Linked DNA regions of Homo sapiens: region 1 is linked to region 2. The links come from fine-mapping of genetic effects on gene expression. A gene starts in region 2. The other region holds a variant in brackets. All regions are shown on one strand. Distances are from middle to middle.

Region 1 (5,356 bases), 29 kb before region 2:
GGTGGATCTGGGATTTTTGAGTCTATTTGGATTGGTTTTTATCACTCCTCTTCCTAAATCCAGGATAAATTGAGAGGTAGCTGCAGGATCTGAGATCCTGTCTCAAGAAAAAAGTTCCAGTTGTAGTCCCAGCTACTCGGGAGGCTGAGGCGAGAGGATTGCTTGAGCCCAGGAGTTCGAGGCTGCAGTGATCTGTGATCGTGCCATGCACTCCAGCCTGGTCGACAGAGCCAGACCCTGTCTCTTAAAAAAAAGTTTCAATTCTAATGCAAACACAATGTATATCTGTGAGTTCTGCTGGGTGGAAATCCAGACTTCAGTCATTAAAGCCCCCACAGCTTCCCAGCTTCCATTTGAAGGGTAGGGACTATAGCCACATCCTTATCCCTCAGTTCCTGACCTCTGTGTTAAAACAGTGTGGCAATGATGCCATCATATTGTGGAGAAAACAAGGAAGCCAAATGCTGGGTAAAAGACAAAACATCTCTATAGAAAAAAGAGAAAAGGAAATGCCTCTCTGTGATGGTTCATTTCAGGTGTTGACTGGGCTAAGGGATGTCCAGATAGCTGGTAAAACATTATGGGTGTGTCTATGAGGGTATTTCTGGAAGAGACTAGCATTTGAATCGGTAGACTGAATAAAGATCTTCCCTCCCCAGTGTGAGCTGGCATTATCCAATCCATTGAGGGTCTCAATAGAACAAAGAGGGCAAAGGAGGGGTGAATTTGCTCTTTTTTTTTTTTTTTTTTTTTCTCGAGACGGAGTCTCGCTCTGTCACCCAGGCTGGAGTGCAGTGGCCTGATCTGGGCTCACTGCAACATCCACCTCCCGGGTTCAAGTAATTCTCCTGCCTCAGCCTCCTGAGTAGCTGGGATTACAGGCGCACACCGCCACGTCCGGCTATTTTTTGTATTTTAGTAGACACGTGGTTTCACTGTGTTGCCCAGGCTGGTCTCAAACTCCTGAGCTCAGGCAATCCGCCCACCTCGGCCTCCCAAAGTGCTGGGATTATAGGCGTGGGGTCTTGAACTCCTGAGCTCAAGTACAGGCAGGCGTGAGCCACCACGCTGGGCCCTTTGTTTTTGAGACAGGTTCTCGCTCTGTCTCCTAGGATGGAGTGCAGTGGTGCAATCCGGCTCACTGCAGCCTCGGCTCAAGCGATTCTCCTGCCTTAGCCTCCCGAATAGCTGAGACCACAGGCGCGGGCCACCAGGCCCAACTAATTTTTTAAATTTTCTTTTGTAGAGACGGGGGTCTCCCTAGGTTGCCCAGGCTGGTCTCCAACTCCTGGTCTCATGCCATCCTCCGGCCTCGGGCCTCCTAAAGTGTTGTGATTACAAGCGTAAGCCACCGCGCCCGGCCAATTCGGAGTCTTAAAACAAAAACAAAAACAAAAAAGTTCCTCGCGCCCACACGATTTTTACAGTAGGCCTCTAACATGGGTAGAGAGGGGAGCTATTAAAGTTGGGGAAACCGAGGCTCAAAGCCAGAGGGACCTTCATCAATCTAGACACAAGGTCTAGGAGGTCTCTTTCAGTTGATGCTATTAGAAGCTGCTTTGGGCGGAACTGGCAACACCAGCGACCCGGCCGGGACTATCGCCAGCAGACGGAAACGACTGAGGGCCTCTGAGGCTCGGAGGCGGCTAAGCGCGAGAGCCGGACGGAACGAAGGCGCCTGGCTTTGGCTGGAGCGAAAACCAGGTCTGGATTTCGCAAGAGCCCGACCCTGGAGCCAAAGCTCCACTATGATTAGAGGAGACAGAACAGCGAACGGATTTCCAAACGGAGCGAGTGGGAAGGGAAATCCTGGAGCGGAATATTCACGGGGCCTTGGAACGGAGCCGGTGCGCAGCTGCGGCTCACTGAGCTGTCTGGGTTTATTCCGGGGCAGACCGTTGGCACCAACGGGCGCAAGCGCGTCTGCGGCGGCGGGGTTCAAGAGTGGGCGGTGTCGGGAGCGCCCGGGCGCACGCGCACTGCACCGCCCAGGCGTGCACCCCGCCCCCCGCACCTGCGCACCAACACAGCCGCGGGAGGGCGGGGCCTCCTGCGTCGTCCTGCGCTAGGGGGATTGTGGGATAGTGGCGGAGGGAGCCGGGCGTCGGAGGCCCTGAGGCCGGCCGCAGAGCCCGGAGATTGAGCGGCTTTGGGGAAGGGGTGGTTAAGGAAGTAGGCCTCGGCTTCCGTCGGTCGCTGCTCGGCTCTGCGGCCCGTTTGGACCGCGGAGGAGGTCGCCTTCCCCTCCCGTGGGGCGCTCGGTTGGACTGTGGAAACCGGGGCAACTTCCCCCGTCTTCCCGGCTGAGGCGCCTGCGTGGGCCTCGCGACCCGGCTCGCCAACCCGCCTCGGCCCGCACGCCCACCTCGCCTGCGGACCCCGGAGGTGCCTACGCGGACTAGTGACGCCCCCCGCCCGTCGGCAACTCCACCCGGCGCTGACCCCCTCAACTCTGCAGGACCCGGCGCGCGAGGACCCCACGACCCGCGGGCGCCTGCGCGGACCCCGCGAGCCCCGGCGCCTGCGCGAGTCCCCGACGCCGCCCCCGCCCCCACTCACCGGGCCCCGCAGCAGGGGCCGGAGCCGCCGGCGGCGGGGCGGGGGGGGGCGCCCCGATGAGCCCCGAGTGCGAGGAGCCGCCGCCCCCCCTCGCAGGTGAGCGGCCCGCGTCGCCCGACCCTCTCTCTCCAGGGCCAGGCGCCCACGTCTTCCCCTCTCCGCGTCCCCTCAGGCTTTTCCCTCTCGGGACCCCCGCGGGTCTTTTCTGCTTCGGATCCTTTCCCTCCTTCCTTCGGGTTTCCTCTCCACGGCACCCCGTTTCTTCCCCCTCGACCCTCCCCAGTCTCTTAATCTCTTCACCTCAGCTCCGCCGCCACCCTAGTCTCAGTCTCTTGCTCTCGGCCTTTTCCCACTCGCTCTCTGCAGCTGCGCTCCCCAGTCCCTGAGCCTCAGCTCCGCTCTCTTGCCTCTCTGGCCGGTTCCCCGGCCCCCCAGGAGTCTTTC[T/C]CCCTGGTTACCCTGGACTTTGCCTGCTTACACCCTTCCCTCTCGCCCCGATCTCTGCCCCGCCACCTCTTCCGTGGCGCAGCCTCCTTAGATCCCCGGAGCTCAGGACTGGAGGAGCGGGGCTTGTTTTCACCTTGACCGACCCTCTCCCGCCTCCGGCTTCTTGTGCGAGGGACCTGGGAGCGGGGCTTCTCTGGAGCAGCCACCACTCGGGCCTGCTTCAGTGAGATGAAGCCTGCTGAGGGCAGGCAGGGAGCCTGGCGCTGGGCACCGAGGAGGGGGCATCAGCCCTAGGCCCTGCCCTGGAGGTGGGGCCGGTCCCTGGAGGGGGTACAAAGGCAGAGCCGGACAGTCACAATTCCTGCGTGTCGTGATCGAGGTGACTTAGGGAGCTGCAGGGGGCCACAGAGCGGGAGGCACTGGTGAGACTGACTGGACGGACGGCTTTTTCTGTCTAGGAAGGATGAGTAGGAGGTGACAGATGGAGAGTGGGAAGAAGGGCCTTCCGGGGGGGGAAGGAGCAGCACGTGCAGATATGTCAAGGAAGGAAGGTCGGAGTCCTGAGTGCAGATGTATTGGGAGGGTGAGGGGCAGAGTAGTTCCGCCCGGCGTGCTTATCCAGGCCTCGAATGGGACCTCTGGTTGGGGTCTTTCTTGCTCGCTCGTAGTACACACAGACATGACCATAGACACCCGCCTGAAAGGCAAGATGTTTCAGGAAAGGAAGCTGCGTAGACTGTCAGGTGCGGTACTGGGTTCACAGTTGTAGAGAAACTGCAGTGGGATTTCATCCAGCCCAAGGGCGAGGGTCTAACTGTTAGCGTGCGCTGCAAATGCAGCAAGGACTCGAGATTGCCTGGATAACACAGGATGAGGACTTGGTTTACATACATGCACAACACACATGGAGACACGGCGCCCGGCCACGTGTGCTTACTAGTGGTGGGATGGCTGTTGGAGCTGCTTGTGCTGTTGAAAATGTTATGCTTTTTTTTTTTTTTTTTTTTTAACTCTAGTTCTGGGATTGGGATCATGAGAAGGCAGTCCAGCTAATTGTTAGAGGATCTTTTGCCAGACAGACCTAGGCCGAGTCCGGCTTCTGCCAAGCGAGACCTTGGACAAGTTGTTCCTCGTCTGTAAGTGGGGATAGCAGACTGCTCTCCTCAGAGGGTGGATCTAGGGATTAAGTGCAGGGTTTGTAGAAGCCTGTGGCAGAATGCAAGGCACATGACACTCTGCAATCAGTAGCTGTTTTGATGTTGATGATTTTGAGACTGGGTTTTGCTCGTTTGCCCAGCCTTGAACTCCTGGACTCAAGTGATTTTCCCACCTTAGCCTCCTAAGTAGCTAGGACTACAGGCACGTCCTGCAATGCTTGCTCAATTTTTGTGTTTTTGTACCACGCTTGGCTAATGTTTGTATTTTTTGTAAAGACTGGGTCTTGCTCTGGTGCCCTGCTGTGGTGCCCAGGCTGATTTCAAACTCGTGGGTTCAAGCAGTCCTCCTACCTAGCCTCCCAGAGAGCTGGGATTATAGGCATGGACCACCACACCTGGCCGTTCTTTCGATTATTATTTGATTTGGGAATGTCCATTGCAGTGGCTCTCAACTGGGGGCGATTGTGTCCCCTGGGGGACGATTGGCGATATCTGGAGATGTTTTTGGTTGTTACAACTGGGGGGAATGCTGCCAGTATCTGGTGAGTGGAGGTGGAGGCTAGGGATGTTGCTAAGTGTCCTCCAGTGCATGGGCAGCCCCAACACCGAAAAGAACCGTCCAGCCCAAATGTTAGCAGCGCAGAGGAGGAGAACTTTGCTCCACTGCTGGGGTATGGTGTGTCGTTGTGGCTTATTTGCTCTGTTGTGACTCATGAGCTGTGAGTTGGTGAGTTGTGTATTGCGAGTCACCACCATCTTTGTGGCCATTAGCTTTTGTTGGTTCATCTACTGTTTCTTTCCATTAGAGGAGAACCTGCTTGTCTGGTCCCCCTGCCCATTTTTTTTCTTTTGTGGGATGTGTGGCCCAGTGCTCTTAACAGAACACCTTTCTCTGGCTTCAGTTTTCATTAATTCAACAAGTAGCTTTAGTTGGGCCTGGCCTTATGCTAGATCCTGGGAAGTCGGCATGTTTCAGGGGGAGGCAGATGACTGAACAGGTACATCCTGTCACAGAGCCGAGGCTCACATGCTGTTCCAGGGTGACTGCGGGATGCTGTGGAAGCGGCGTGGAGCAGGCCTCTAACACAGATGCGGGGGGGAGGCTCCCTGGAGGAAGTGGTGTCTGTGTGGGGGCCTGAAGGACCCAGGAGGAGCTAGTCAGACTCGAAGAGCTCCGGGAAGGAGGAGGGAGCAGC
Region 2 (5,356 bases):
ACCGGATGGAACGGGCTAAATGGTGCTGGTATCCCGAGGCCAGGAGGTGGCCATGGGGTCCCCGTCCTCTCATAGGCTCGAGTGCTAACCCTAGCTGCCCCCTTGGGCTGCCTCTCTCGCCTACCAGGTCTCAGGACCCCACACCCCCCTCAGCACCTCAGGAAGCCACAGAAGGCAGCAAAGTCACGGAGCCCTCAGGTGAGCCCCGCTTTGCCCTGCCCACCCGCGGCCCTGGGCAGAGAGAGCAGCCTGGCCAGCTCCGAGCTTGCTGGGAGCTGCAGCTGAGATCTCTTATCCCCCACAGCCCCTTGCCAGGCCTTGGTTAGCATCGGGGACCTTCAGGCCACCTTCCACGGGATCCGTTCTGCCCCCAGCTCCTCGGACAGGTGAGCAGCGAGGTGGGGCTGCCTAGTATCGGGAGAAGTCTTTTCTCCTCTTCGCTGAGGTGGGCTCTGGGTTCATCTTGTCCCTGAGCTGCTCCAGGCCTCCTTTGCAGGACCCCCAGGCGCAGCCTCATGTTGTGCCCCAGCCCCTTGCACTCTGTAGGCTGGTTCTTCTCTTAGTAGCCTGGGATGCTTGGGGCCCTTGAGCCCCAGGGTTGGGAAGGGCTCGTTGGAGGGTGTGAAGGATTGGGAGGGTGAGAGCATGCAGAAGACCCTTTGGGGCTGTCTCAGCCGGCCTCGAGTACCTCCTCCACAGGGACAGGAGGCGGGAAGAGGGGTGCTTGTCTTCCTGTCCAGGGCTGTGCTGTCCCTCCACGCTGAGCCAGCTGCGTCCTCGGGAGGCCCCTCCCCGTGGGGCAGGTGGCAGACACACACCCAGTGAGCCGACTTCAGTCGGGTGGGATGTGAGGGTGTCAGCAGGTGACGGTGGGGGCCACGCTGACAGCCGCACCTGCCTCTCACCCACAGTGCAACCAGAGACCCCTCTACCTCTGTCCCAGCCTCCGGGGCCCACCAGCCCCCCCAGACCACAGAAGGGGAGAAGAGCCCAGAGCCCTTGGGGCTTCCCCAAAGCCAGAGGTGAGCACCAGGGCAGCAGGGCGGGGGGGTGGGGGTGGGGCTGGTGGGGCAGGAAGTGACCTCTGCACATCCCCTCTCTCCCCTGACAGTGCCCAGGCCCTCACGCCTCCTCCGATACCCAATGGCTCTGCCCCGGAAGGGCCTGCATCCCCAGGCTCCCAGTGAGTGTGGCTGCAGCCTCGGGCTGGGTAGGTGGGGCTGGGCCTGCTAGACCCTCACACGACATCTCCCTCTGTTTCCAGATAGCTGCCTGGTGCGGCAGCGGCGGCCAAATCTTCCGTCCTCCCGTGGATCTCCCGGGGTGGGGGCAGGGCGGGTCCCACGATGGCCCCCATTGCCCTCATCACCCTGACACCCCCACATTCTCTCCTCTGGACCCCCAGGAGGCTGGTGCCAGGGAGACAGGCCCAACCCACCCCCATTTGCACTGAGAAGAGAAGTTTTGGAGCGTTGCCTCCTAGAATAAAGATACAGAGAGTCAAATAGAGAGAATGGAGAGAGAGAAACATATATTATATATTATATAGAGAGAGGGAGGAGAGCGAGAGAGAGTGAGGACACCGAACTGGGCTGGCGGCTCCAAAGCACAGCCTTCCCTGTTCCGTCCCAGCGGGAGCTGGTGTTAGGGGTCCCAAGGTTGCCACCCACGTGCCCAGCTGTCCCACGCTGCAGCGCAGACGGCCACGCCCACACCCGGCCTTTTAGCTCAGGTCCACCATGGGGGACGGCCCAGCGTGGGTGGGGGTGCCAGAGGGTCCCGAGTGGGGGCCGTGCCTTTGCCCAGACCCTGCACTTTCAACCAGGCCAGTCCGGCTCTGGGGAGCAGGGGCCTCCCCGGCAACAGCCCCAGGGGCCTTGAGGGTCTGAGGTCCCAGCCCTGTTGCCAAGTGACCTTGTCCCCAGCTCCCTCCTCCCAGGCTGGTGTGAGTGTGCGTGCGTTTGTGCCGAGCTTCTATTTCATATTGCAAATATAAATAAAGGAAGGCAGTTTACGATTCTGCTGGTCAGACCTTACGTTCTGGGATGCGGGGTGGGGAGCCTGTATTATCCCTGCACCCCAGAGGCTGGGGGTGCTCCTGACCCAGTCTGCCCCCACACTGTCCTGCCAGAGGGAGCCCTGTGGCTGCAGAGGCCCCAGGCTGGGCCAGGCACTGGCTGTGAGGGCTCCTGCCAGGTCTACCCCACCTGTGGGCAGGGCCTTGGGCAGAGGATAGAAGCCACCGACAGGCTCAAATCCCTGCTCCTGCCCCTGCTTACCCCCAGTAACCAAGCCCAGCATTGAGGCTGGGTACTGGCGCCCAGTAGGTCTGAGTCTTTCAGGTAGAAGGTAGAAGTGTAGGCTGCGTGTGCAGCGAGTGGCACCGGTGAGCGGCGCTGGGAAACCGGAGCGTGTGGACCGGGCCATGAGGACAGCGTCCTCACTGGGGTGGCAGTTGGCTTGGAGGTCACCTGGGGGCTCGCTCAGCTAACAGGAGAGGGTGCTTGTTCCCCGCATTCGTGGTGGTCCCTCCTGGTCACCCATTGAAGCAGTGTTTGTGGTGGAGCCCCTGAGGGCTTGGTGGGGTTGAGCAGAATGAGGAAAGGTTTCATGGAGCAGGGAGGGAGACGGCTAGGGCAGCAAGTGAAGGACAGACTCGCCTTCCCATCCCTCCAGGGGCACTCCTGCCAGCCAGCCCCTCTCCCGCTTCCCATGATGGGGTGGCTGTTGGAATTCTGCACCCCATCTCTTCTGATTGTTGGGGCCCAGGACAAGGGGACAGGCATTTGTGGGCCTAACCTCCCCAGGCAGATAGGAGGAGGAAGCCATGTCCCAGCAGGCTAGGGCAGAGGGACCCCCAGTGCCAACAGTGCTTTATCAGCGGGCGCCAGGCAGGGCCATCCCCAGGGTGAGGACAACATCTCCCTGGGCCCTGTTATCAGTCACAGAGTCCACAGGACGCTCCTTGGGTTAACGTGTAACCATGAGCCCTCCCCTCCACCCCCTGAAGCCACTCGCTCCCAGATTAGGTCGCTCTGGGGCTATCAGGCCAGCATGGACGCTGGCAAAGCGGGGCAGACCCTGAAGACTCACTGCTCAGCCCAGGTGAGAGCCTTCTGAGCTGTGCCTGGGGCTGGGGGGACAGGGCCCTGGAACCCCAGCAGCCGGCGGGTCTGGGAGCTGCTGTCCTTGAGTTGGTTGGGCCCTGGGAAGCTGGGTTCTGGCAGCCTGGTCCCTGAATGGGTCCAGCCTGTACAGCTGGGGTCCCAGGTGGGGGTGGGACAGGAGCCATGAGATCTGAGTCCCAAGAATGGGGGCTGGGCTGGGTTTCGGCTCAGTAGCTCCCCACTCCCCAAAGCGCCCAGATGTCTGCAGGTGGCTGAGCCCCTTCATCCTCTCCTGCTGCGTGTACTTCTGCCTCTGGATTCCCGAGGACCAGCTGTCCTGGTTCGCTGCCCTGGTCAAGTGCCTGCCCGTCCTCTGCCTGGCTGGGTTCCTGTGGGTCATGTCCCCAAGCGGGGGCTACACCCAGCTCCTCCAGGGAGCCCTTGTGTGCTCGGCTGTGGGGGACGCTTGCCTCATCTGGCCGGCAGCCTTCGTCCCTGGTGAGTGGAAGGTGCTGTGACGCTTTCCAGATGCCCGTGTGAGAGAGGCCCCAGCACTTGGATGGGAGCCTGGGTGCAGAGGGCTCCTGTGAGAGCTCCAGTGGTCAAAGGCACAGTGGGGGGCGCAGCCGTGACCGAGGCAGCTCACGCTCCAGCGAGGGGTGGGGGCAGGCGGTGTTAGGGCAGTAGCTGAGGTGGCGCAGAGGGCAGTGAGGACCTGCTGGAGGTACTGCAGTTTGAAGCAGGGTTGCTGAGGAAGGCCTCACTGAGGAAGTCACATTTGGGCAGAGCTGAAGGGCTGTATGCCTGTGTGGAGGAAGGGCGAGTGTAAAGGCTCCGGGGCAGGGACGTGTCAGGTGCTTGTAGCCCAGCAGGCCAGGGTGGCTGGCGCAGAGTGGCTGGAGAGCTGGAGGCCATGGGGCTTTGGAGGCCAAGGGAAGGTGGGGCCTCCTGGCAGTTCTGAGCAGAGCAAGGATGGACACTGCATGTGGGGAGACCTGCAAGGAGGCTCGGCCAGGGTGGGGCCTGGTGCTCTGGGATGGTCCTTCTCTTAGGCCCTGAGGGGTGACCTCGGGGCCATTCCCAGGATGGGCCTTCCTCACTGGTACCCCACCCCTCTCCCGCCAGGCATGGCCGCCTTTGCCACCGCCCACCTCCTCTACGTCTGGGCCTTCGGCTTCTCTCCCCTGCAGCCCGGCCTGCTGCTGCTCATCATCCTGGCCCCTGGCCCCTACCTCAGCCTTGTGCTCCAGCACCTCGAGCCGGATATGGTCCTGCCGGTGGCAGCCTATGGGCTGATCCTGATGGCCATGCTGTGGCGCGGCCTGGCCCAGGGCGGGAGTGCCGGCTGGGGCGCGCTGCTCTTCACGCTCTCTGATGGCGTGCTGGCCTGGGACACCTTCGCCCAGCCCCTGCCCCATGCCCACCTGGTGATCATGACCACCTACTATGCTGCCCAGCTCCTCATCACACTGTCAGCCCTCAGGAGCCCGGTGCCCAAGACTGACTGACTAGGGAGCTTGAAGGGCCGGTGTTCAGGCCCTCTCCTCCTGCAAGGACCTGGGCCTCCCAGCCCAGCCCAGCCTGAGAAATACCCTCAGCAGCGAAGCTTCCTGACGCCTGTCTGCAGGCGCCGCTGCCGCCGTCGCTTCTGGCTGAAGACGTTTGAGGACGATTTGCGGAATTCCAAGTCCACTACTGGGTTCCAGCTGCCTTCCCCCGGTTCTGACTCCAGATCCCTGGCTCCTCAGCCAGGCCCACATGGAGCCCTCCCAGCCACCAGCCTGCCTCCATGTTCACTGTCGGCCCCACAGCCTGCCCGCCCCCTGCTGCTGCTCTGAATCCGTTTTCCCTGTGGGTGTGGAACCGTAGATGTTGCTGTTACCGTAGGAGAGGCCTCGGGGAGGGTCATGATTGTGATAAACCATCGCGGTTAATGACAGCAGAAGGTTCTTTGTCGCTCCCCATGGACCAGGCCTGGTGCCCAGTGGGACCCTCCATGGCCCTCTGGTGGGGGGATTCGGGGGGATAAAGTGAGGATTGTGCAGAACTGAGCCAAGAGGACTGTTTGGTCTTTGTGTTAGTTTCCTGAGGCTGCTGTCACAAATTACCCCAAGCCAGATGCTTTGAAACAAGATGAATGGACTCTCCTGCAGTTCTGGAGACCCAAAGTCCAAAATCCGGGTGTTTTCCGGCCCATGGTCCCTCTTGAGGCTCCAGGGAAGAATCCGTCCTTGCCCTCTCGGCTTCTG

What was found.
Region 1: its variant is fine-mapped to the expression of TMEM86B in unexposed skin (GTEx, PIP 0.97).

The regions. Positions count from the first base shown.
Region 1 is chr19:55,255,734-55,261,089 of GRCh38, reverse strand. PPP6R1 (protein phosphatase 6 regulatory subunit 1) reads left to right here and starts at 2,073. Exons shown (of 24, transcript NM_014931.4): 1 at 2,073-2,655. RefSeq lists enhancers at 1,436-1,485, 1,566-1,615, 1,646-1,845, 1,851-2,825 and silencers at 1,675-1,969, 1,876-2,155, 2,286-2,385, 2,556-2,615, 3,800-3,993. The variant T/C (reference allele first, on the strand shown) is at 3,004.
Region 2 is chr19:55,226,440-55,231,795 of GRCh38, reverse strand. It overlaps TMEM86B (transmembrane protein 86B), which reads left to right and starts at 3,033. Exons shown (of 3, transcript NM_173804.5): 1 at 3,033-3,105; 2 at 3,359-3,605; 3 at 4,233-5,158. The coding sequence starts at 3,055. The coding sequence ends at 4,615. It overlaps PPP6R1 (protein phosphatase 6 regulatory subunit 1), which reads left to right. Exons shown (of 24, transcript NM_014931.4): 20 at 128-198; 21 at 305-386; 22 at 912-1,022; 23 at 1,112-1,183; 24 at 1,265-2,017. The coding sequence ends at 1,268. MIR6804 (microRNA 6804) reads left to right here and starts at 844; the gene lies at 844-911.